5 separate regions of the Homo sapiens genome follow, and regions 1, 2, 4 and 5 are each linked to region 3. Evidence: fine-mapped expression QTL. A gene starts in region 3. Each other region holds a variant in brackets. All regions are shown on one strand. Distances are between the middles of the regions. Region 1 has its middle 14 kb from the start of SERPINH1. Region 2 overlaps GDPD5 (glycerophosphodiester phosphodiesterase domain containing 5). Region 3 holds the start of GDPD5 (glycerophosphodiester phosphodiesterase domain containing 5). Region 4 overlaps GDPD5 (glycerophosphodiester phosphodiesterase domain containing 5). Region 5 overlaps GDPD5 (glycerophosphodiester phosphodiesterase domain containing 5).

Region 1 (5,100 bases), 22 kb before region 3:
CTCAGCCTTCCGAGTAGCTGGGATTACAAGCGCTGACCACCACACCCAGCTAATTTTTGTATTTTTAGTAGAGATGGGGTTTCACCATCTTGGCCAGGCTGGTCTTGAACTCCTGACCTCGTGATCCATCCGCCTCAGCCTCCCAAAGTGCTGGGATTACAGGCGTGAGCCACCGTGCCCAGCAAAGATTTGTTGTTGTTGAGACACAGTCTCACTCTGGAGTGCAGCGGTTGGGATCTTGGCTCACTGCAACCTCTGGCTCCCGGGTTCAAGCGATTCTCCTGCCTCAGCCTCCCAAGTAGCTGGGATTCCAGGTATGCACCACCACGCCCGGCTAATTTTTGTATTTTTAGTAGAGACAGGGTTTCACCATGTTGGCCTGGATGGTCTCGAACTCCTGACCTCAGGTGATCTGCCTGCCTCAGCCTCCCAAAGTGCTGGAATTATAGGCGTGAGCTACCGTTCCCAGTCTCACGTAGCAAAGATTTATTGAGAACCCACAATTTACTAGGCACTGTTCTAGGTACTGGGATAAAAAAGTGGGCAAAACCAGATCTTTGCCCTCCAGGAGCCTGGTGTGCTGGCGAGTGGAGACACGCAATAAACTAAGAAAGAAATGTGATCATTTCCAGTAATAATGAGGGCTAGCAAGAAATGAAAACAGGTGTTGTGGGTAAGACTACTTTACACCAGGCAGCCTGAAATCTGAATAAGAAGCTGTAATCATTTCCGGTGGCTGCTGTATCTAGTACCACACACTTAGTGGCTTCAAATGATATAAATTTATTCTTTTATGGTTTTGAGGTCAGAAGACTTAAATGGGCTAGCAACTCCTTCTAAAGACTCTGGGGATGAATCTGCTTCCTTGCTCTTTCCAGCTTCTAGAAGCCACCCGCATTCCTTGACTTGTGGCCCCTGCCTCTACCTTCAAAGCCAGCAGTGTGGCAGCGCCAATCTCCCTCTCTCTCTGCTTTCTCCTTCCCTCATCACATCTGTTTCTCTGACTCTGACCCCTCTGCCTCCCTCTTGAGATGGACCTCCCTGATGACACTGGGCCACCAGTAAAGTCTCCCTATCTCAAGATCTGTAATTTAATCTCATGTGCAAAGTCCCTTGTCCCATGCAAGGTAATGCACTCACAGGTTCCAGGAATTCGGACATGGATGTCTTTGGGGAGCCATTCTTCCTCCGACCAAAGGAGGAGGGAGACCTTTATGGTGGGAGGAGGGGATCCCAAGCAGAGGGAGCTGCATGGGCAAAGGCCCCACAGTTAGAATGAACTAGGCATGCTCTAGGAATAGCAAGAAGGTCAGCCTTCTAGAAGTAATGCTCCAGTTAGCTTGATTTGCATCTATGTCATTCGTGAGGCCAATCCCATCTCTATGGACAAATGTTCTACAGTGTGCGTCCAGGAGCCCTGCGAGTCTACGGCATCCCCTTGGCATTTCAGGTCATCTCCTGCATCCTTCTGCTTCTAGCTGCCGGACTCTTCACATGCTTAGAGCAAGAGCACTGGACATTTGAGGAAGGTGCCTGGCTGGGCACTCACCTGGGCTGGGGCCAGGCTGACTCTGGTGGAGGGGTGGGCCCAGTCCCTAGTACCTGAGTATAATCCTGCTCTTTCTTCCCCACTGAAGGCCAGGATTGTGTGGCTAAGGATGGATGGGGGCAGCAAAGCTAGACCTCAGGCAGTGGCAGGAGCTGTCAATGGCCATATTGTTAGCTCTGGGCTGCGGCACGGAGGCACCAGGGTAGGGCTGAATGAGGCATCTGTTCGCTAGGTCAGGATGCCCAGGTCAGGGTCTCTCTTGAGAGATGCCTCCTACCCCCACCCTAACCCCAACTCTGCCCAGACCCTGCCATGTGGCTCCCTTGATATCTCTGGTACCCATCCCTCAGGGACCACAACTGTAACTAGCTGGCTCACTGTGAGGTTGGCTGTTGGATGGTGGTCTTCTCAGTTAAAATGTGAGCTCTCCACATAAGCCAGGAACTGTCTTCATCAATGCCAAGTCCCAGCAGCCGGCAGCCAGCACCCAACCCAGGGCCTGGCTCAGAGAAGTTGCTCCATACACACGTGCAATGAATGGAGGAATGAAGGAACAGATGAGAGAGACTGGGCCACCCTTGCATCCCCTGGTCACCTCCTCCCTTGACCACTGCACCCTCCTGCTCACTAGGCCTCCCTGCCTCTGGTATCTCTTCCCAGACACTCTTCATTCTAACACACCATCTAGTTAAAACCCTCCTGGGGCTCCCTGAGACCCTCAGGATCTGCCAAGCCCCAGCCTCACCAGGCTACCCGCCCACCGATTCTGTCCTCTACCTCTGCACTCCTCCTCAAGCAGTCCCTGGCACTGTCCAGTGTGCGCCCTTGTACTTGTGTATTCTTATGCCCAGAAAGCCCCTCCTCCCCTTCTCCCGGTATGGATGGCTCCTACCCTCTGTTCAGGCTCCTACAGGAAGCGGGCCCTGACCACCCCCAGCCTCCCCTGGGCTCCCACAGCCTGTGCTTCCCCCATCTCAGCACCAATTGTAATTCTCACTTCGTACATCTGTCTCCCTTTCCACACCCTGAGCCCCTCAGGGCAGAGACTAATGCTGACCCACGTCTTTCTTTGTCTGCTCCAGGGCCCTGGACGTGGTCAGGCACAGAACAAATGTTCAGCAAAGGTGTAAGCCCAGCCCCAGGCCAGTGGGCAGGTCCTATAGCCTGACCAGTGGGCGCTTCTG[C/T]CCTCTGGTGTCCGTTTTGGGTCACTATGATTTTCTATCTCTTTGAGGGGCTTCCTAGGGTGATGTACCCCAGCAGTGGTTCTCAGAGTGTGGTCCCAGGACCAATTGTATCAGCATCACCTTGGTACCTGTCAGAAATGAAAATTCTTGGGCTGTACTCTAGGCATGAATCAGAAACTCTGGCTGGGGGGAAGCAATCTGGATTTTACCAAGCCCTCCAGATGTTTCTGATGCAGGCTGAAGTTTGAAAACCATTATCCTGGAAGAACCCTAAGCCTGAACCACTCCCAGGAGCTCCAGTTAAGGGAGGAAACAGGACCCACCTGGTGGAGTTGCCAGGTACAATACAGGATTCCCAGTTAAATTTGAATTTCAGATCAACAGAAACATGTTATTGCAAGTATTGCACAAGACAGACAAACTAAAAAATAAAAATAAAAAATTCATTGTTTATGTGAAATTCAACTTTAACTGGATGTCCTATGTTCTCTTTCTGTATCAGCAGCCCTGTGCAAAGAACCCTGTTCTTATTTCAGTACTCTGCTGTCGCCATCTTGAAATTCTTAGTAATCTTTTTTACTAGGAGCCCTGCATTTTCATTTGGCAATGGGTCCTGCAAAATGTAGCCAGTCCTAGGAAGGATCTTTACAAAGCCTCCCTGGGGGCATTCAGGATCCGGAGCTCAAAGGCAGGCGGAGTGGGACCTCTGGCACCTTAGAGATGTGCCTCTAAGGATTCTCAGCTCCTCCCTCTGCCACGTGCTGGGGGTTCCCTTCCCAGGTGGGTCAAACCTTCATCCTTCTCCGATTGTGGCTCCTGTCTCCTCACTATCTTGCTGCCTCTGTTCTCACCCCTTCTATGCCACCTTCCACACAGGACGGTGAAGTTCCGAAAATGTCTGCCCATATGCCACCCTCCTGCCCCCAAACTTTTCTCTGGATGTCTCCTTCCCACTTTTATTTATTTTTTTAATTTTTTTTTTGAGACAGTCTCCCTCTGTCACCCAGGCAGGAGTACAGTGGTGCAATCACAGCTCACTGCAACCTCCAACTCCTGGATTCAACCAATTATCCTGCCTTAGCCTCCCAAGTAGCTGGGATTACAGGTGTGTTCCACAACACCCGGCTAATTTTTGTATTTTTAATAGAGACAGGGTTTCACCAGTTGCCCAGGGTGGTCTCGAACTCCTGACCTCAAGTGATCCACCCGCCTCGGCCTCCCAAAGTGCTAGGATTACAGGCGTGAGCCACCACGCCTGGCCACCACTGCTTTTATGATAACCAGTGGCTACCATTACAGAGCACTGAAGTAGATGCTTTTCCTCATTATGTCTTGTATTCTGCAAAGTAATTCTCCTCTTGGCCAAGCCTGGGATGGGATTGCTGTGGGCAGAACCAGCCTGCAGCCTCGGATGAAGAGCTGAGTATCCGCCCCAGCTCATGCCTGACAGAGGAAAAGCCGCTGCCTGGGAAGGCTACAGAGGAGCAAGTGGAGGAGAAGCACCAGAATGATCTGTTGAGCACTTACTATGTGCCGAGCACTGTTCAGAGTGGTGGGAGCTGGATGGTGAAGGACACATATACCAACCCCACCGTCCTTGGGATGGTTCCATGGATCCTGCCAGCTTTAATCTCGGGTTTATGCCCTAACCTTAGTGTTCTAATCAAACAGTGGAGGGCAGTGGCTCTTCTTATTTTTAATTTTTCAGAAGCAAGGAGGAAGTCATTCTTTTCTTTCTCGAAGATTTGATTCCAAATTACACTGGGAGAAGTAGGTTGGGGCACAGAGGAAACAGGATTGGTATGACCCACTATTGCTGAGGCTGAATGATGGGTACGTGATGGGGTCATTAGACTCATCTCTCTAATTTTGGGTATGTTTGAAATTGTCCATCATTAATTTTTTTAAAGTATAGTTCAAAGTAATAAAACCAAAAAGTAATATTAAAACTGCAAAATCTCATCCAATGTAGAATAAGACTCTTCTCTGGGGGTGGGCTTGCCTCAGAAACTAGAGACTCAGAGAGGGCAGCGACTGCCTCTGGTCTCCCTCAGTGCAGTGGCGCGATCTCAGCTCACTGCAGCCTCCGACTCCTGGGTTCAAGTGATTCTCCTGCCTCAGCCTCCTGAGAAGCTGGGATTACAGGTGCCCACCACCACACCCAGCTAATTTTTTGTATTTTTAGTAGAGACAGGTTTTCACCATGTTGACCAGGCTGGTCTCGAACTCCTGACCTCAGGTGATCCACCCGCCTTGGCCTCCCAAAATGCTGGGATTACAGGTGTGAGCCACCTCACCCAGCATCTCCATGACCATCTGTCTATAGAGTGGGAGAGAGAGCAGATCAGGCCCTCCTTGCCTGATACA
Region 2 (5,100 bases), 60 kb after region 3:
GCTGTCCTCAGCAGCTGGAGAGATGTGGTGTAGAGCAGGGAGGAAAGGTTTGATCACTGTCTTCACATAATTAAAGGGCTGTCAGACGCGAAATGATAATTACAGGAACGATCCTGGATTTGGCGACTTACAGCTTACATCTGTAATCGTGCTGGGGCCTGGCAGTCCTCCTGTGAGGTGGTGGTGATGTCATTCTGTGAACAGAGGAGGAAGCTGAGGTCAGAGGTCCTGAGCGATTGGCCTACAGCCACACAGCCGGTGGGAAAAGGGCCTGGGTGAAAATCCAGCTCTTTTGTGTATTCTCCACTCTGTGGTCATTTGACCCCAATATTTCTTACCCTTTGGCTGGCCTTGTTCTGTGTGGTATCAGAGAACCAGCTGCAGGGGAGCAGTGGAGGAGGCAGATTTCAGCTCCACCTCCCGGGGGGGGGGCGTCGGGGGAGGGCAGTAACTCCCCTGCCTGGAAGGTCAGCCTCACCAGATGCCGTGCATGGGAGGTTTTAGTGGTCTGGGCAGCATGCCGATACTGTCCCCATTTTACAGAGCAGGAAGCTGGGGCACAGAGAAGGTAAATGTCTTCCCCAAGGTCACTCAGTCGTGGCCAGTCTGGGATTCAAACCCAGTATTGCCAGACTCCCTCAACCCAGCCTTCCGTTGTCAGGCTCCATGTCTTGGAAGGAAGAATTTTGAGTCCACAGAAGGACTAGGCAGCATCTGGAAGGAGAAGCCCCTTCCCAGGAGCCAGTGGAGTAGAGTAGGGTGAGCTCGTGTCCTGGAGGCTGCAGACACGCTCGCTGCCTCAGGGCAAGGGGACAGGCAGGGGAGCTCTGCGATTCTGAAATTCTGTAACATTCAGAGTGATGTGTGCAGACTTCAGACCCCATGTTCTGTTAAGGGACCAAGGGGAGGTGCTCCATAACCTTCAGGATCCCTAGTAGTGGGAGGGGCAGCTGTGTGCATTTTGGCCTGGGGCTGCAGTCTACAGTGGCAGGGGCCTGTAGCCAGTGGCAAAAGGCAGCAGCAGAGCCATCCCACCCCAGCGGCCATGCCCATGCTTCCTGTGTGGGGCTGGGTTTGCGGCTGCAGTCGTGCTCTGTGACTGTATGAGCCCCCGCTGCTAATGAGGTCTTTCTCTATGTTCTTCTCTGAACACAGAGGGCTCTGGGGTGGGAGGAACAGGACAGAGACAAAGAAGGGTGAAGAGAAGACATGACCATCCTCAGGAGACAGTGAGGAGAAGGACTGGCCTTCAGGGAAATTGACCCACAATTGCCCAGATTGCTACGGAGGGGCTCCTGTTTCTGGAGGGTTAGGGTAATAATGGAAGGAGATGCAGTGGCCTCTGGGTTGGAGCCTCCAGGATTCTCCATCACAGCAGCCCCCACCTCAGCCTCCATCCCCTCGGGCAGGAATCAGCATCCTACCCCATCCACAGCCAGGGGCCACTCCTGCCCCAGCTGCTCGCCCTGTCTGGTCCCTCCTTAGGCAGTCTCCAGCACACTCCTCCTGGTGCCTACCCCAGGAGCCAGCTGCTCCCTCAGCCCCAGCCCACTCAGCTTTTCTCCTGCTCCCTGAGGGTAAGTCTGGGGCTTGCACGATGGCCCTGCCCACTGGTGGCCCTGAGCACCCCTCTGTTGCCCTGTCTCACATCCATACCTCCTTCTATCCCTCACGCCATAGGTGACCACCACCTTGTGCCCGGCGTGATGCTGGGCCCAGGAGACATAGAGACAGCTCAGGCCATCCCTGCCCTGAGGGAGCTCGCAGCCCAGTGAGCCACCCTCATTATGCGCCCACTGTGTGCCACTTGAAGCCCTTCAGCTCATTTAACAGCCTCCCTCCGAGGGAAGGGCTGTTATTCCCATTTACAACGAGGAGACCGAGGCTCAGAGGGGCCAAGTGACGTGCTGAGTGGCAGAGCCAGCTCTTTAGAGCCCGTGCTCTTTCCATCTCCACAATTACAATTTGATTGAGGGTCACAGTGGTGGGTGCCAAGAGTCTGTGCAGGATGGTCAGGGAGGGGAGACCTTTTGAGCCCTGGAGGGATGGAAAGGCTTCCTGAAGGAGCATCAGGTCTGGCCTAGGGGTCAGAGAGTTGGAGGAGAGAAATCCAGGGAACTAGGCTGGGCCTGGGATCGCCATACTGGGTCCCAGAGGGCAAGGTGGGTTTTGAGGGGAGCTGTTCAGGCTGCCTCCCAAGGGGGCCTGCAGAGTCCAGTCAGTATGCCTGGGTTCAAATCTTATCCCCACTCCTCCCCTACCTGCTGACCCCTCTGACTCCCCTCCACTCACCCGTGTTGAGCCTTTATGCAAATTAGCAAAAAGCACCCATTTTCTAGGACACACCCGCCCGCCATGTGCCAGCAAATCGTCATAATATGCACATTGATGGTCACCATGATGTGAGTGGCACTTCTTAGGGGGCAGTGCACAACTTGCTCAGCCATATGTGGTGGCCCTTCTCTGAGCTTCTGTGCAATGGGGGTAGATACCCCTAAATAAACAACCCCTAGTGTTATGCAGACTGTGAGAGATGAAGGAGGGCCGTGGCCGGGGCATTGAGGCAGCGATCACTGCTCCACGTCTCTGGGAGCAGGGCCAGATTGGCTTGCTAATGGGTGGAGCGGGCAGGCCTCTCTCTGCTGTAATGTGCCCTGACAAGGACCATTAGTGCTATTGGGGCCTCTTTATCAGTGGAGCTGCTCCCCAGGCCACTTCCTCTGGCTACTTCCTCACCTTCCCCTTCCCTTCCTTCCA[G/A]TCCCTGCCATTCAGTGTTTTCCTCTGATTGTTCTTAGAGTGACCCCCGCTGCCTGCCTCCCTCTGTGCTGGGGCCTCTTCATCCCCATCTACAGGCTCACTGTGGCCTCCGGCTTCAGCTCCCAGGGCTTTAATCCCTAGGTTGCCCCAACCCCAGCTCATGCACTAGTTCTGATCATGGGGTTCCTGGCTCCTTGTTGCTTAGGCCCTGCCTGCATTCCTTCCATGCCTGGATGCCTCACCCCCAACCACCACCAGCTCTGGTCTTGGCTGGTTCCCAGGAGTGGGAGGTGCAGCCCCTCATTCCTGCCCTGCCTTGCTCCACTGTAAGGATCTGGACACTTGAGGACAATGGCCTTTAGGGCATAGGACCCTGGCTGCCATGGGCCCTCCCGGCCCCTGTGGTCTTCCTGGCCCCCTGTCAGCCTTGCCCCTGGGCCCTGCATCACCCCGGTCACAGGTCGTCTTCCCAGCGCCTACAGGAGGTGCTTTACCTTCCCGCCTCCAGGCTACTTGCCTGGGACCAGACCCATCCTAGGCCGAGGCTCACCCCTCGCCTAGGTCCCTCTCAGAACCTTCTCTGCTGGTCAGAGGCACACAGGCCTTGCCCCTGAGGAGGCAAAGTGGTCTCTGTGGACAGACAGCCATCTAACACTGCCAGCGTGGGCTCTATAGAAGACTAGGTACTTTTTTGTGGGAACTGGGTGTTAAGCCTCAGGGGAATCTCTCCTGGGTGGGTGTACTCATGCCAGGGTAGGAGAAAGGGTGTTTCCTCACCTATCATTTCATTATCAAATCTTTTCAAGTTCCTGTGCCATCTGGAACACGAAAACTGCCCAGATCTCAAGGCATTTATGTATAGCAGGGAGACCGACATGTATAGAGACAGTTCTAGAACTGTGGGGTCTGAGCCATAGGTGAGATGGCTGCATGGGTTACGGAGCTCTGAGGAGATGGGATTCACCCTGTGAGACAGGGGAGTCTTCAGGGAGGAGGCACTCTGGAAGGAGTAGTTTGCCTCATGGAGCAGAGAAAGGTTGCTTTCTAGATGGAGGCTCCAGCTGTGTGAAGGCTTGGGGTCTGAAGAGCCTGTTTGGGGAACCGTATGTAATTCTGTGCATGGGGCATAAAGCACAGAGCTGGCCTGGGCCAGACAGAGTGGGCCCTGACATCTACTGAGAAGCTCTTGCCAGTGGGACTCTCAAGCTGGGGTATGACGTGACCAGATGGGTGTCAGTCTAAAGACATGGTTCACCCTTTGGGAGACTCAGATGTTTAAGCTGGCCTGGGACTCACCAGCTGCACTCTGCAGGGAATGAAGGCTGTTATGAGCAAATAAGAATTTGAGGTGGCAAGACGGATTCTGAGAAGGACTAGTCCTGGGGTGCTGGCTGGAGGGTGGTGGAGAGACGGTCATGTGCAGACCCAGACTGCCTCCATGGGAGGCAGGACTGAGTCTAGGGACTCAGCCATTCTCTGGGTGGCAGCTCCTAGGGTTCGATTGCTCTAGAAGGGCACATGTCCTGCCCTGCTCCTAGCCAGGGTTTCCCTATTCCTGACCAAGGCTGGGCTTTGCTGTGCCTGGAACTGGAGCTTGTGCCATTCTGTGTCCAGCTGGGGCAGACACAAGTGGCCTACTCTCTGAGAAGCCACCACCTCCCCAAGCCTAAACCTGCTAGAAATACTGGGCCTCAGGGTGTCGTCACCTTTGCATCTCTGTTTATGTACGAAGTGAGGCTAAGCAAGGCAGTCGGGCTCTGCACATGACAAGGAGTGGTGGCAGCTGCTCACCCAAACATGAGTCGCCCAACTGAAGTGACCCACCTGGGACAGGAGGGTCACCCAGGCACCAGCCCTCTTGCCCAGGGCGAGGCACGGAGCAGGCCCTTAGTGGGTATGGAGTCATGGACCATTAGGGTGTGAAGGCCTTTCCTACGTTCTGGAGAGGCAGAGGATGTCACAGATACACTGGTAGTGTGCTGAGTGCTCACCAAGCCACCTGACTTGTATTATCTCATTTAATTCTCCATCAACCCCATGGCATAAGTACTAGTATTGCCCTCATTTCATAGAGGTGAAAACTGAGTCACAGAAAGAATGAGTACTTTGCCCAGAGTTACACAGCTTGTAAGTGGTGACAGGGATCTGAGGTTCCTGGGCAGACTGATGGTATCTTTGCATGGTGTGGGATGGAAGGATTCTGGACAGTGAGAAGACTTTCCCTCCTTCCTGCCCAATCCTGCATGTGGTCATAAAGTACTAGTAGAGTGGAAGTCGGCTCAGTCTCTGTCCTTGCAGAACCCACACTTGTCTGGGGGACACAGTGAGCAGGTCATGGTGTGC
Region 3 (5,100 bases):
GGGCCCGAAGCTGAAGCTGCTGCCTCCGGTGAGAAGAATGTAAGGAAGGTAGAAGGTTCTTGGGAGAAGTAGGGCATCAGGCAGAAAAGGCTAATGTTTCCGTGTAGCCTCACCCTCGACCACCGCCCAGACCAGCCACCATGACCACCTCTGTCATGCTTCATGGAACTCCTTGGCCACCAAAAGGCCAGATTCCCCAGCTCACAAGACTCCCTCCCCTTTGGAAGAGTGGCCAGAGGGCAAATGTGGGTGTCTTGAGACCTGTTTGCTAGTCACCTCCTGACGACCTTGGGCATGCCTCCCCCTCACACACCCCCAGCGCCTCAGGGGTCATGGAGGGTCTGTTCTGAAAATCTCCTTTTATTCTGACATCCTGCTCATCTGACCCAGCTAAGGAGGCTCTCGCAGCAGGGGCAGCCAGAGAACTCTCTGAGAGCCTCATTCATCTCCCAGTGCCGAGATCTCACAAGGGCAGGCCATGTACCAGGCTGGATGGTGGCGGGTGGGAGGGAAACCAGACATGGAAATCAATCATTACAGAACCTTCAAGCTGAGGGAGCCCAGACCAAAGGCAGGCAGCCTGGGGGAGTTCAGGAAGGCTTCTCGGAGGTGGTGATAAATCTTGGTGGAGATAAATCTTGATAAATCTCATGAGAGATGGGTCATTTATTCAACAATTGTTTACTTGGCACCTACTATGTGCCAGGCTCCGTGCTAGGCTCTGGGGATACAGCAGTGAAGAGAACAGATGAGCATTTGGCCTAGAGGTTCTGCCCTTCAGCCCAGCAGAGAAATGAGAATTAACTCCAGAGAGAAGGGGAACAGCAAAGCAACACATGGAGGAGACAACTGCATGGAGACAGAATGCATCCTGCTTGCTGATGGAGCTGAGAGAAGTTGGCGCAAGTAGAGAGGGAAGTAAGCAATGGGGAGATGAGGCTGGTGGAGTCAGCAGGCAGAGAGCAATAACAAAGGGGCTGGAACGCCAGGCTAGGGATGTAGGGCTTGGTCATGCTGGCAACCGGGAGCCAGAGAGGGCTCTGGACAGAGGGAAGGGCCACAAGGTTTCTTAGCGTCAAGTTCAACAAGTAAAGGCAAAACTGCCTTCTCCCAGCCCTCAGGCTCCAGAGACCAGTCCCAACTTCCTGGGCCCAACTTGCCTACTCCCAACCCCTGGGCCTGAAGAAGACAGGGCACCCTCAAGTCCGCAGCCTGAACTTCAGCCTCCAGCTCACCCTCTTCTTTGTTCTTCCAACCAGTCTCTCAGCCATAGTCTGATGCCATTTCTTTTGCAGGGAATGCCCATGCTTCACCCTCTGAAGCCTGCTGCCTGCCCAGTCCCTCACCTGGTTCCCTGCCAAGTAGCACCTTTATTCTTCTTTTATAGATGAGGAAACAGAGGCTCAGAGAGGGAGAGTAACCTGTTAAAGCCACACAGCTTTACCCTAGAATTTGATAATGATGGGTGGATAGAACTCTGTGCCAGCTGTGTGGTCTCGGGAACGTCACTTAGCCTCTCTGTGCTGAGTCCTCATCTGTGAAATGGGGTACCTATCACAACATAAGGTTGGTGTGAGGTTTACAAAGAGACTGTACTGTGCCACCAACATCCCTTAGCTCCCCAGGCCAGTTAGCGGCTTTCACATGGTCCCTACCCCACTCCCCCGCGGCACACATTCAACTTTCATTCATACATCAGTTCCCTCCAACACCTTCTCTGCGCCTGGTCCTGTGCACACACTGAAGACGGCTCCTTGGCCAAGCACAGGGCTCACACCTATAATCTCAGCACTTTGGGAGGTCGAGGCAGGAGGATCGCCGGAACCCAGGAGATCGAGACCAGCCTGGAAAACATAGGGAGACCCTGTCTCTACAAAAAATTTAAAAATTAGCCAGATGTGGTGGTGCACGCCTGTAGTCACAGCTACTCCGGAGGCACAGGTGGGAGGATCTCTTTAGCCTGGAAGTTCGAGGCTGCAGTGAGCCGTGATAGTGCCACTGCACTCCAGCCTGGGCCACAGAGCGGGACCCTGTCTCAAAATAAAATGAAATAGAAAATAAAGACGGCTCCTGCACCCAACGCGCGGGGTGGGAAGGGGCGGGAGCGGACTGCAGATGCATCACGATTCGAAGTGTGTGTCCTCACACAACTCTGCTCTTGAGTTCGTATTTTTAAAATTGACCACGACGCTCCTCCTCGGGGATGGGCGCAGGGAAGGGAGGCTTGTGGAAGACAAATTCGCTCATTTCCAAAAACTTATTTTTCACCGTTTCCTGAAATCTGAACACTTCCCAGCCCAACTCTCACCTCTGAGCGCCGAGCACTAGAAGCTAGGGAGAAGCAAGGTGTCGGTGGCATCCCACCACTCAGGAGGGCTCGCTCCAGCGTCCCTGGGACCCCTGACCCCGGATATCCTCCACCTTGCCTCGCCCCGGCTTCTTTTCCTACACTGGCCCCTGCTCCTTCCCCGTGACCCCCGCAATCCCCGCACAGCAGTCCCCATGCCCCCGTCCCAGGCAAGCCAGCCCTCTCGCCTCTCCCTCCTTCCGGGTCCCGAGGCCAACCCCCTCCCCGATTCGGCCCGTTCCGAACCCCCAGCCCCGCCATTGTCCTCTTGCAGCCGCACCTCTCCATTGTCCGCCCCGCCCTCTCCGAGGTAGAATCCGCTTTCCGCAGGGCGCCGCTCCGCTCCCACCCTCGGATTGGCTCCTGCGGCCCCACGCGCGAGGCCCGGGAAGGGGAGAGGGCGCGCACCCCGCCCCTGCCCGCAGCCGGCCGGGGGCGGGGTCTCTGCTGACTCCGCCCCGTCCGGGCGGGGCCGCGCAGGCTGGCGCTGGGGCGCTGGGCGGCGCTGTTTCGGCTGAGCTCGGGCTGCGGCTCCGGTGGGGGTGGGTGGCGGGGATGACAGCGGAGGTGGCAGCGGCGCGGCGCTGAGCGAGCGGCGAGGGAGCAGGGGAAGAGGAGGAAGTGGAGCCGCGGCCGGGAGCTCGGGAGTCGGCCGCCGCGCCGAGGTTCGCCCCGTTTTGCAGAGAGAGCCGAGTCGGGACCTGGAAAGACTTCCCCGCGGGGCTCCGGCCGCCGCGCCTCCCCGCCGGCGCCTGCCCTGCCCTGCCCGTCCCAGCCCCGCGGTTCGGGGCGTGCGGCCGGGACGCGCGGAGCCCCGGCCCTGACCCGCTGCGCCGGGACGGGACGCTCCTAACGCCGCCGTACCGGTCCGTGGTTGCAGGGTCGCTCCGCGCCTTTCCGTCAGTGAGGGTCGGAACCCCAGCTCCAGGGCTAGCGCAGTGTGGCCCCAGGCCCTCGCCTCCGGTGCACGGGACCCCGGACCCCCCCAGCCTCTGGCTTCACGAGACCCCAACCTTCAGTTGGAACAGCTTGGAACAGCGCGAGCGCCCGGGAAGCCCTGGCCGGGTCGTGCGCTCGGTGAGGGGTCCTAGGCGGGCAGGACAGTCGGACCGAACCGCCGGGCTGGTGCCGCGAGCCCAGGCTGTCACCTTCGTCCCGCCTCAGGTGAGGGGTTCAGCGCCTGCCCCGAAGATAACACAGGGGTCCCCTTCTGTCCCGGCGGCCTGCGAGAGCCAAGGCTGCAGGTGAGAGCCCCGGATGCGCGGCAGGAGCGGTCCCCGACCCCATCGCGGCAGCGCGGGGGCCAGCGGAGGGAGTGTCAGGGGAAACAAGCAGAGGCTGGAACTGGCTGGGAGGGGGCGCGGGAAGGGGAGGGGAAAGAAAGAAAACGGGTACTTATTGAGCGCCCATTGTGTGCGGGTTCGCGCCCTGCCCCGCCCCGCCCCGCCTAAGCCTCACTGCTACTCCTGAAATAGGTGTTGTGTATTATTATCGGCGCTTGCAGATGGAGAAACTGAGGCTTAACGGGGCTGAGTGACCTCCTTTCACTGCGGGGAGGAGACTGGGGAAGCGGGAGAGGATAGAGGGGGAAGAGGCAGAGCACTTGAGCGCTGATGCTAAAGCTGAGGAAGTGGCTTCTTCTTGCCTCCCGCTCCCTGGCCATGTCACCCGCGAGGAAAGGTGACTCAGAGTTGAGGGTAGAGGTGGGAAGCTTCCCAGTTCCAAAGCTTCTCTCCCTGTGGGCCCAGGATGTGAGAGCAGCAGCTCCTGGCCCTTGTGTGTCAGACTCCAGGGTCTCTAAGACACTCTGGAGGTCCTGAGACGTGCTTATCTGTTGGTGAATTCACTGCAGAGATCCCCAAGTAAGGGTCTGTCAGAGCTGGAGATGTAGCCCCTCTGGGGTGGCTGGAGATGTGGCTCACGTGACTCACCTCCCTCACATTACTAATGGGGACACTGAGGCCCACCCGAAGGGAGTGCCAGTTGTCCGATCCTAAAGCCAGTGAGTCCTTGAGCCACAAGTAGACTTGAGAAAACCTTCCTGAGCATCCTTCAAGGTATGCACACTCCTCCCCAGTTAGGATCTTCTGGATAGGTGGCTGGGGCTTTCCCTATCGCTGATGTGAGATCTGGGCGACCATGTATGAGGCTGTGGTGAGAATTAGTGTGGTTGGTTGCTGGGGCCCCGAGGAATGCCTGCAACCGCATTGCCTTTGGCCCAAATGGAAGGTCCAACCTCATTTTCTTCTGGGCAGGGGAACCTGCAGGATACCTCTGCCCAGGAAGGAAGGGACCTGCTCAAGGTCTCAAGGCTGGGGGCTCCCAGGGCTGGGGCACAGTCCCAGGTGTCTTTATTCCCAGGCAGGGGATGCTTCTGCTGCCCCCAAGGCATGTAGGGAGAGGGGTGTTGTGAAAGAGCCCTTGGCATGGACTCTGTGGGCTCTTATTCTGTGTGGGGACGGGGAGGGGATATGGCCTTGGTCTGGGCCCTGTGGCCTTGGCTAGGCCTAGTTAACCCTAGAGATGCCCAACTCCCTGGAGTCAAGGGGAAACCACCTTGGAAAGCCCCTGGAAGGTGGAGGAGCGTGGTGAGAGGTCTGTGGAAGTCTGAAGCTCAATCCCTGGGGGTGGAAGGGTTAGGGGATCCCAAAAGACAAGGTGACTGAGGGGCTTGGGATTCCCTCTACCCCAGACCTCTGTCTGGGGCTTCAAATCCTCGCAATAATCTCTATGTCTAAACAAAGCTCTTTGAT
Region 4 (5,100 bases), 85 kb after region 3:
CCACTTGAAGGGAAAAATAGATGATAGAGCTACAACACTCTCATGAGGGAAATAAAGCAAGTTGCAGAGTGATACATTCACTGTGACTCCAGTTACGTTTTAAAATACCACAAAAAAGTGACATATACACTTTCTCCATGTACATATATAAGTAGATATTAGTATAAATGGCAGGAAGAATCCATACTAATCTCATAACAGAGGTTATCTGAGAAGGGAAGAAGGGCAGAACTGTCATATATAGTTGTACAGGTTGCATACTGAACAAGGGCATCACATAAATGAGGACATTGTTCCCAGTATAGACATAGAATTGTGTGTTTATCACAACTTTCTAGCAGATGGTGGTAAAATGCCTTGAGGAACAGAGGGCACAGGTACCTTTTACTGTTTCACACTAAGGCACCATATGAGCTATTTGCAACCCTGGTAGAGTAGACAAGGATTGGGGTTGGGTGGAATTTGCCAAAGAGGTCTACATTTGCACTGTTCTCATCATAGCATCACAGGGATTTGGTTCCAAACTGGGTTCCACCACTTACAGGCTGTGGACCTTGAGCTAGATACTTCCCTCTCTCAGCCTCAGTTTCTCCATTGTCAAATGAGGCAGCACCTACCTTCCAAGGTTGCTAAGAGAGTAGGTCCAGATTTTTCCCAGCCCTCCCTCCTTGGCAGTCCCCACCCCCATCTGACCCTCACAGAGAGCCAGAAGGCATTGGACCTTCAGGGTCACCCACCAGCCCACTGTCTTCCCTGTGCAGATGGGGAGACTGAGGCCCAGAGAGGGGCAGAGCCAGCCGGGATCCTGTGCTGGGTGGGGAGGACTGTGTGGGGTGACGATCATTGGTGGGCAGGTAAAGGATCTGGGGGGTCACTGACTCGGTGGCCCCACCCTCCCTGCAGCCTGGACGGCGTGCCCTTCCTCATGCATGACACCACCCTGCGGCGCACCACCAACGTGGAGGAGGAGTTCCCGGAGCTGGCCCGCAGGCCTGCCTCCATGCTTAACTGGACCACCCTGCAGAGACTCAACGCTGGCCAGTGGTTCCTGAAGGTCTGGCTGCACCTGATCCCAATCTTAGGCATGGAAAACACCAGCAGGGACTGCAAGGAGTGAGAGGTGCAAGGGTGGCCATCAGCTTCGAGACCCCCACTCTCAGAGCTTTCGCGACCTCCACCCAAGCTGCTTAGTGGCCTCCTAGGCTCCTGCCACTGCTGCCAGACTCATGGTTGTCACTGCTTGTTCTGGGTCCATTTCCCTCACTAGAAAAGGTTGACAGGGATGAGAGCAGTGAATAGAATTCTTAACTCTGTAAAACTCTAGAGAGGGGTTGGCTCTCTGATCTGAAATGCTCTAGAAGGAGAAATGCTGTGGGTCTGGGAGCGATTCCAAGCAAGCCGTCCTCCGTCCTCTTGGTAAGCAGGGTGTGGGGTAGAAAGGTTAGGGCTGGGGCCTCCTACAGCCTCCACATGGCCACAGCCATCAATCTGCCTGACCCCAGCAGACTCTGGCAGCCCAGGGGTCTCCACGCTTGGTTGCCAGAAGGGTATGTGGGGGCCCCCAAAGGGCTGATGATGCAGCCATGTGTGTGTCCCTGTCCCTGCCAGACTGACCCCTTCTGGACAGCCAGCTCCCTGTCACCCTCCGACCACAGAGAGGCCCAGAACCAGTCCATCTGCAGCCTGGCAGAGCTCCTGGAGCTGGCCAAGGGCAATGCCACACTGCTGCTCAACCTGCGTGACCCGCCCCGGGAGCACCCCTACCGCAGCAGTTTTATCAACGTGACTCTGGAGGCCGTGCTGCACTCCGGCTTCCCCCAGCACCAGGTGAGGCCCTGCAACGCAGCTCTGCCCCCGGGAGCCCTGGCCTGGCTAGAGCCCTGCTGCTGCATAGCCTTTCCCTGTTGCACTCCGGACTTCAGCTTTCCCATTTGTAAAATGGGGATCACACACTGCTCACTTCCCTGGCAGGGTCATCATGGGACAAGAGGGGAACAAGAAAACACTTTAAAATGTATAAAGGTCCAGGCGGTCAAGTTATTTCAGTGAAGTGTTGCCCTGTCGTTTGGTGTAATAATCTGGGACCAGAGAAATCTGACATCAGTTTAGGACGGCACACTAGGTGCTAGTGGCCATGTGCAGAGTAGTGGCTGTTTGGGTTTTCCCTCCCGTACTGACAGCAGGCCAGAAGCGAAGTTTCCTG[A/C]GTTGCTGCCAGTGCACTTTGCAGCCTTGGCTGGGACTGAGTCCTGCCCTGCTAATGACTTCATCTAAGCTTTCACCGCCTGCCAGGTCCTGTCTCTTAACCCCACAGGTGCTCTAGGAGGAGTAGGTACTCTTACGCATCGTGCAGAAGAGAAGTCTGAGGCTGCCTCTCTTCTGCCTGCAGGTCATGTGGCTGCCTAGCAGGCAGAGGCCCCTGGTGCGGAAGGTGGCTCCCGGCTTCCAACAGACATCAGGCTCCAAGGAGGCAGTCGCCAGCCTGCGGAGAGGCCACATCCAGCGGCTGAACCTGCGCTACACTCAGGTGTCCCGCCAGGAGCTCAGGTGCCTGCCCTGCCCTGGGCTCCTCCAGGAGAGGGTGGGACTGAGTCTCTCCCAGTCCTGCCACCACCACCCCCCAACACACACACACACACACACACACACGGTCGGGCAGAGGGATGGGCACACAGAGGAATCAGGCACACATGGTTCAAAGACAAGAGGGTGAGCGTGTCGGGCAGACCCGGGCTTGTCCCGGAGCTTGGCCCTCTGGAGCCAATGTTCCTTGCCCCGGGCATGGCTGTGAGGTCGTGAACAGGACGTGCTTTACCAGCCCCGACACTGGGCCTGGAGCTGCCAGGGTCCGCATGCTGACCTGCCTCTCCCCTGCCCCACAGGGACTACGCGTCCTGGAACCTGAGTGTGAACCTCTACACAGTCAACGCACCGTGGCTCTTCTCCCTGCTGTGGTGTGCGGGGGTCCCATCCGTCACCTCTGACAACTCCCACGCCCTGTCCCAGGTGCCTTCCCCCCTCTGGATCATGGTGAGTTGGGGGGCAGAGGGCCCCTGGGGGGCAGTGCTGGAGCTGCCTATAGCCTGCCCTGACCACTCGGCAAGCTCTGTGCTTGGAGCTGTCCCTGGGAGGTCTCTAGCATGGTGGGGAGTCCATGGTGGGCGTGCAGGCTTGAGGCATGAGGGTTTCATGGCATCTGGGATCTGCACTAAGGTGCTGGGAGGACCCTGGGCCTCATCCACAGGGAGAAAAGCATCACTAAGGGCTCTAAAGAAGTAAAGAGCTGCTTGGGTTTCTTTGCTTTGGAGGGTAACAAGGACAGGAATAGGAAGCATTGACCGGGCGTGGGGCTCACGCCTATAATCCCAGCATTTTGGGAAGCAGAGGCAGGATGATCACTGGAGCCCAGGGGTACAAGACTAACCTGGGCAACCCTGTCTCTACAAAAAAAAATAATAATAATTAATTAATTTGCTGGCCAAGGTGGCACACGCCTGTAGTCCTAGCTACTCGGTAGGCTGAAGTGGGAGGATTGCTTGAGCCCAGCAGGTCAAAGCTGCAGTGAGCTGTGATCACTCCAGCCTGGATGACAAAGTGAGATCCTGTCTCAAAAAATAAAAATAAAAAAGAATAGGAAACAATTAAAATCTGCTCAGAGAACAGCAAATAAAGCAATATTTTAGCTGGTTGACTGGGCACCTGCAGATAGGTGGTGGCTCCACTGTCACCCTGAGCATGCAGAAGGCAGGTGGAGGGTATCCTTATGGCTGAGAGAATGCAGTGCCAATGAATCAGACCTAAGCTGTGGATGGTTCTATGGGAGAGGAGGGTGAAGGGAAGGCAGCCTGGGGAAAGGGTCGAGACCGATGGATGAGAGTCGGCAGCGGGGGGCGGCAAAGCCATTGTCTTTCAGTATCTGGCTCCTGCTTTGAGGACCCTAGACACACAGACCCTGCAGGCCTAGCACACAACCCCTCTGCCCTGAGCACCATACAGTCCCCTCCTACCCTGAGAGTGCACACGTGTGCACACACACGCCCCGGCCCCCAGGCCCACAGCGCCTGGAGCCTACACCTGCAAAATGTCATCTTCAGCCCCCAGACCCTCTCAGGGTCCTCCCTTGCCCTTCCCCAGTGGCCATGTGGGGTCCTTTGGTCCACGGACCCTCAGTCTGGAGCCTCAGTCTGGACTGGCCATGACTGGAAGTTGGCCTCGGGCCGTCTGTCCACAGCCCCCGGACGAGTACTGTCTCATGTGGGTCACTGCCGACCTGGTCTCCTTCACCCTCATCGTGGGCATCTTCGTGCTCCAGAAGTGAGTAGGATCTGACCACTTCCGTGGCTGTCCCTACCCTGCAGCAGGCCCAGCCCCCACCCCAGCCAGGTGAACCCTCTCCTGAGCCCTGGGCCTCAGCCAGGAGCAGGCCTGACCAGGGAAGAAGGACGGACTCCGGTGGCCCCATCCTCCCTCAGACAGAGGCTGGGTGACTTCTGGAATGAACATGCAGCTGGGATCCCAGAGCCAAGCTCTGCCTTGGGTGGCTATGTGGGCTTAGGTGAATTTCAGCTCCTCACCGGGCTGGCCTGCTCATCTGTTAGCCAGGGCATGGGTTCCCACCAGCCCTCAGCAAGATAGCTGGGGTGTGCTCGCAGTGGGGAGGTGTGGTTGGTCCCAGGGAGGGTCTAGGGCCAGCCTGGGGCCCCCACCCAGCCAGGAACCAAGGGGCTGGGATTTTATTCTTGACTGATGTTCTCTCTCTGTCCCATCCTGCTCTGATCGGCGCATGTCCCTCCTCTCTCCCCCTCCCCCTCTCTCTGCTGCACTCTGGCATCTCACAGCTATCACTTGATCAGGTAATTCTGGTGTGGTCTTCCTCCTCCTTCTGTTCCTCTTTCTCCCTCTTGCCATCCCTTCTCCAGTTCTGTCTAAAAACCCACCGTGCACCAAGCCCTGTGCCCGGGCCACCTCGCAGACAGCGCGCTCGCCTGAAGCCTCCCTTACCCCCGCAATCCTCTTTTCTGCTCCTCCCGTCCCACTGCCGTGTGTGTCCCTCTGCTCCCTGTTCCCACGGCCGTTTCTGCAGGTGGGGACCAGCGTTTCCTT
Region 5 (5,100 bases), 70 kb after region 3:
ACATTAATTCAGTGGAAAACCACGTGGCTATTTTAAAAATCACATTTTCTCAGGATTTTTACTGGCATAAGTAAATGCTTGTGTTGAGAAGACAGTTGGCCAGGTGTGGTGGCTCACGCCTATAATCCCAGCACTTTGGGAGGCTGAGGTAGGAGGATCACCTGAGCTCAGGAGTTTGAGATCAGCCTGGGAAACATGGCAAGACCCTGCCTCTACAAAAAATACAAAAAAAATTAGCCCGATATTTTGGTGGGTGCCTATGGTCCCAGCTGAGGTAGGAGGATTGCTTGAGCCCAGGAGGTCAAAGCTTCAGTGAGCCATGTTCGCATCCCTGCACTCCAGCCTCAGTGACAGAGACCCTGTCTCAAACAAACAAACAAAAACAAAGAGAGTTTATTGAGTAGTTACCATGCATCTCACCTCACTTCATCCTCATGAGACCCCATGAAAGGCACTTTTTATTTATTTATTTTATTTATTTATTTATTTATTTATTTTTGAGACAGAGTCTCACACTGTCGCCCAGGCTGGAGTGTAGTACTGCGATCTCTGCTCATTGCAAGCTCTGCCTCCCAGGTTCACCCCATTCTCCTGCCTCGGCCTCCCGAGTAGCTGGGACTACAGACGCCTGCCACAACGCCCGGCTAATTTTTTGTATTTTTAGTAGAGATGGGGTTTCACCATGTTAGCCAGGATGGTCTCGATCTCCTGACCTCGTGATCCGCCCGCCTCAGCCTCCCAAGTGCTGGGATTACAGGCGTGAGCCACCACACCTGGCTTCAAAAGGCACTTTCTTATCCCCATCCTATAGGTGAGGAAACTAAGGCTCAGAGAAGTCAAGTATTACATTCGATCAATTCTAAGACCCCCAATTTTCACATCTTAACATTGAAGTTGAGATGACAGTGACAATCGATGGCATCTTAGAATCAGTGAAGCCTGTCCTCCACAAGGTCCTACAAGACAGTGAAAAGCAGAGACGAGAGGGGATGTGAATCCAGCCTGTGTGCCTCACTCCAAAGCCTGTGCTCCTGACCGTGTTGCTTTGTGCAGCGGGGTCCTGGCTTTGCTGTTTATACAAACATATAGGCATGGGGGCGGGGGAACCCACAGGAGGAAGATCCAGCACAGCCTTGGTAATGATTACTTCTGGCCAATAGGATTATGGGGCATTATTTTCTCCTTTACATTTCTTGGTCCCCGGGTGGCTGCCATGAGCAGGCATGGTAGAGCATCAGGCAGACGCTGAGCCTTATTGCTAGGTGGGCACAGCCTGGTCACTGAGCCCAGCCTGTCGTCTGTGTGGAGGCTCAGACCATCCTGATTCCTGGGCCAGGTAGTGGCCTGGTGGAGGTCTGACCCCTGCCCCCTCTCCTCCTGGCAGGTACCTCTACAACCGCATGGGCTACTGGAGCGACTGGCCCGTACCCATCCTTGTGACCACAGCTGCTGCCTTCGCATACATCGCTGGCCTCCTGGTACATGGGGCTGTTTTGGAGGGCAGGTGGCCCTGCTCCCAGGGGAAGGGATACTGGCCCTGTGCTGGGCTGATGGAGGGTCCCACCCTGGTATAAAGGGGAAAGCTGTATTTGTAGGAATATTGTATTTGTAGGAATGTATCCTAAGGAAGTAATCAAAAATACAGAAAGATATGTATAACATTTTCATTTTTATCTTAATTTATAATAGCGACTAATCAGAAGCTATTTCATGCCACTAGTAGGAAGTTGGCTACATATGGCACATTAATTCAGATTTTGCCCAGGGCCTCTCGGGCTGCTGCACCTGAGGCCTGGGTCCCCCAAAGCAGGAGGTCCTCTTGCTTTTGCCCGTCTCTCTAGGCTGCCCCTTCCTGGAATGTTTGCCCCGGACCCAGTGAGAGCTGTCCTGGCCGAGAGGGCCCACTGCAGGCTTCCTCTTCCAGGAGCCTCTGCTTCAGGCTCTTGCTCCCGATATTCCACTCACTGAGATGCAGGTGGATCCCCCATGCTGGACTGGGGGCTCCTTGGGGACAGGCTCAAGTCTGTTTCAGAATCCCGGGGACTGGAACTCCCAAAATGTTTGATGAATGAAGTTGAGTAGTCCAAGTACAGCAGCACCCAGTGACCTCTTGACGGGGAATCACACAGAGGAAGAGCCTAGAGGCCTGGAATCATCTGGGAGGAGGCCAGGCTCAGGCTGGCTAGTCTGGGCTGGGCTGGGGAGGGCAGCGCATTCCCATCGCCTGGAGGGAGGTTCGCTGCCTCTGCCCAGGGTCAGGCCCAGAGCCGCAGTGGGGAGCAGGGTGTCTGAGAAACTGGCAAAGCCTTCCCGCCCACACGGGCCTGACAATCACCCTGTGGGTCCCTCCTCAGGTCCTGGCACTATGTCACATTGCCGTGGGGCAGCAGATGAACCTGCACTGGCTGCACAAGGTAAGGGCCGCCTCGGCCGGGGCTGGGAGAGAGCAAGGGAAGCTGGAGGCAGCAGCAGCAGAGGAAGGGCCTGGCCACCATGTCCCTCCCCTGGATC[A/G]CCGTTAGAATTGTTCTCATAGCTAAGGCTGAGCACTCACTATGCGCCAAGCACTTTTCTCACAACCTCACCCGTCTTCATTCACTTAACCCTTACAGCAACCTTGTGATGTAGGTACTGTTATCATTCCATTTTGTGGTTGGGGAAACTGAAGTACAAAGAGGTTAAGTGATTTGCCTAAGGTCTCCCAGTTTAAACATGGAAGATCCAGGGTCCCGCAGTCATGTGATTAACCAGCAGAGCTCACAGCTCATACTGTGGCACCCACCCTCTGGGGGCCCTGCCTCGGGTCTCACCTGCCTCTTCCTTCTTTGGTGAGCTCTTTTGAAAACCCTGATCTGGCGATGGCATTCCCCAACTTAAAGCCTTTCCACCACTCCCACCGCTCCCAGGATGACCCAAACTTCCCTACCTGGCATGATCTGGCCCCTGCTGATCTCCCAACCCATCATGGGACAGTCACCCTCAGCTTCTGCTACATGAGACATCTCATGCTCTCCCAGCATGTCTGCCTCCTTCCCCCGTTTAGCACTTTGCTCTTGCCCTCCCTTTTTCTCTCGGACCCCTTCCTCAGTACCTCCCCTACATACACAGGATTCTCTCCCGGGACTTCCTCAGCCCCTGCAGCCTCCCCTGCTACATGTCTGAACAGCTATGTTTTTGTGTTTTCAGTATTCGTCTGGCTCCCTGACCCCGACCCACCCAGTCAAGGTGCTCTTTGCAGGCCAGAGTTAACCTCCATCTCCCTGTTCCCAGTGCCCCCCCTCAGGGCTGGGCCCAAAGCAGACAGGCTTCACCCATTCCGGAGCCTTAACTCTCTGCCTTACGTCCATTGCAGGCATAGTGCTGAAGTGTGTTTCTGATGCCTGGCCTTCTTGGGGCCCTGGTGGGCACAGAGTGGTACCGAGCTGACCAAGGCAGAGCCCCTCCCTCCCAGGAACATCTGGATCGTCTCCCTTTCCCCAGAGCCTGGCTCCCCGTGGGCCTGCCATTTAGGAAAGGGCAGAAATGTTCAGAAACTACCATGAGCCCATGAGATGGGGCCAGAATGACTCCAAGGGGAGGGGCTCACTTCTAGCTAGAAGACGGATGTGGAATAGGAAAGGAAGAGGGGACAGCATGAGCCTGGGTTGGGCTGTGTGGAGTGGGAGGTGCCTGTGAGCATCCAGGGAGGCACCGAGGCCGGTTTGTTACATGGGCCTGGAGCTTGGGAGTCAGACCCCAGAGACTGAAGTCTTAGAGTGGTAGGAGCCGTGAGCAGCCCCTGGTCCCCCCACCTTCCTCCTGCCCTCACTCTACTCACAGGCCTCCTCTGGGCTTCCACTATCCCCTCTGTGAGGGAGTTTCTTCTCCTGGCTGCAAAGCTGGCATTTGAAAGAACTGCACCAGCTGGCACCCCGGGTGGGGCTGGCACATGCTGTGGTCACCTTCTGGGGCCATGCCTGGCTCTCAGCAGGTAAGGTCACACATGCTTGATTCTAGTGGAGAGGCCTATAGAGCCGCTGAGCCAGCTGGAGCTGGCAGATCAATGCAAGGAAGCAGATCCCATTGTCCATGCTGGTGCCAGCTCCCAGGGTGCCTTCCTCTGCCCTCTGCCCCCTATGTGAGATCGCAGCATGAGCAGGGTCCTTTCAGGTGGAGCTGACCCAGAGCTCGACCCGCCCCACCAGGAGGGAGTTCCCCAGAGCTCAGAGTGTTCCAGCAGGGCCTGGAAATTCTCTTCTGTTTCTAAGATTCTGCCATTTGATTCTAAAATTCTAAGGACTCTTTATTCTTTTTTGTTTGCTTTAATTAACTTTTGACCATGTAATACATCGACATGATTCAAAATACAAAAAGCACAAAAAAGTATACAAAGAAAGTCTCCTCACTATCTTTCCAGACAGATTTTAAGCACATGCACATGTACATATGCATTTCCTTTTTCTTTTTTCTTTAAACACAAACAGTCGCCTACTCCACCCTCTGTTCCGCACCTTAACAGAATTCTTGGAGCTCCTTCTTCGCTGCATTAAAGCATCCCTGTTGGTATCCATCCCTTGCTCCTGCTCCCTGGTCTGGATATTCCCTGATTCCCTAGGCGTCTAGCCAGTTCCCTGTTGATAGACCGGATCGACATCCCAGCTGCTTTCTGTCTTTTGCCAGGACGATGTGGTGGTGACCTGGGAGAGGAATTTCTGGGTGAAGAATGTGTACTTTCATCATTTTGATCTTGCCAAATGGCCTCCTTGCCAAGTGCCTCCGATTCATGCTCTCTTAGCAATGGATAGTTGTTCTATAAAAACACCCTTGCCCATAAAGCATCAGCTGATTTATTGGCTTTTGTCAGCCTGATGGGTGAAAAGTGGTACCTTGCTGTAGTTTTCATTTGCATTTCCCTTCGGGTGAGTTAGATTCGGCATTTTTCACATGTTTGAGTAACTTGTGTTTTCTTTTCTATAAAACTGTCTCTTCATATCTTTTGCCATTTTTGCCATTGCTTTTTGCTTATTCATTTGCAGGAACTCTTTATAGATGTGGGAAATTAGCCATTTGGCTAACAAACTGCAAATAATTCTTCCTAGTTTGTCATTCATCCTTGGACTTTGC

What was found.
Region 1: its variant is fine-mapped to the expression of GDPD5 in fibroblasts (GTEx, PIP 0.98).
Region 2: its variant is fine-mapped to the expression of GDPD5 in lung (TOPMed, PIP above 0.99).
Region 4: its variant is fine-mapped to the expression of GDPD5 in whole blood (TOPMed, PIP above 0.99).
Region 5: its variant is fine-mapped to the expression of GDPD5 in whole blood (TOPMed, PIP above 0.99).

The regions. Positions count from the first base shown.
Region 1 is chr11:75,545,373-75,550,472 of GRCh38, reverse strand. No RefSeq gene overlaps it. Among named protein-coding and RNA genes, the nearest start is that of SERPINH1, 14 kb to the left of the region's middle. The variant C/T (reference allele first, on the strand shown) is at 2,734.
Region 2 is chr11:75,464,012-75,469,111 of GRCh38, reverse strand. The region is part of intron 3 of GDPD5 (glycerophosphodiester phosphodiesterase domain containing 5); the gene reads left to right. Among named protein-coding and RNA genes, the nearest start is that of KLHL35, 33 kb to the right of the region's middle. RefSeq lists enhancers at 727-1,373, 1,374-2,021, 2,290-2,962. The variant G/A (reference allele first, on the strand shown) is at 2,758.
Region 3 is chr11:75,523,701-75,528,800 of GRCh38, reverse strand. It overlaps GDPD5 (glycerophosphodiester phosphodiesterase domain containing 5), which reads left to right and starts at 2,860. Exons shown (of 17, transcript NM_030792.8): 1 at 2,860-3,591. RefSeq lists silencers at 2,533-2,592, 2,643-3,162 and an enhancer at 3,009-3,509.
Region 4 is chr11:75,439,090-75,444,189 of GRCh38, reverse strand. It overlaps GDPD5 (glycerophosphodiester phosphodiesterase domain containing 5), which reads left to right. Exons shown (of 17, transcript NM_030792.8): 11 at 904-1,054; 12 at 1,609-1,827; 13 at 2,387-2,544; 14 at 2,880-3,027; 15 at 4,229-4,311. Among named protein-coding and RNA genes, the nearest start is that of KLHL35, 8.4 kb to the right of the region's middle. RefSeq lists an enhancer at 2,690-3,252. The variant A/C (reference allele first, on the strand shown) is at 2,204.
Region 5 is chr11:75,454,071-75,459,170 of GRCh38, reverse strand. GDPD5 (glycerophosphodiester phosphodiesterase domain containing 5) reads left to right here. Exons shown (of 17, transcript NM_030792.8): 5 at 1,385-1,478; 6 at 2,355-2,414. Among named protein-coding and RNA genes, the nearest start is that of KLHL35, 23 kb to the right of the region's middle. RefSeq lists an enhancer at 2,234-2,832. The variant A/G (reference allele first, on the strand shown) is at 2,512.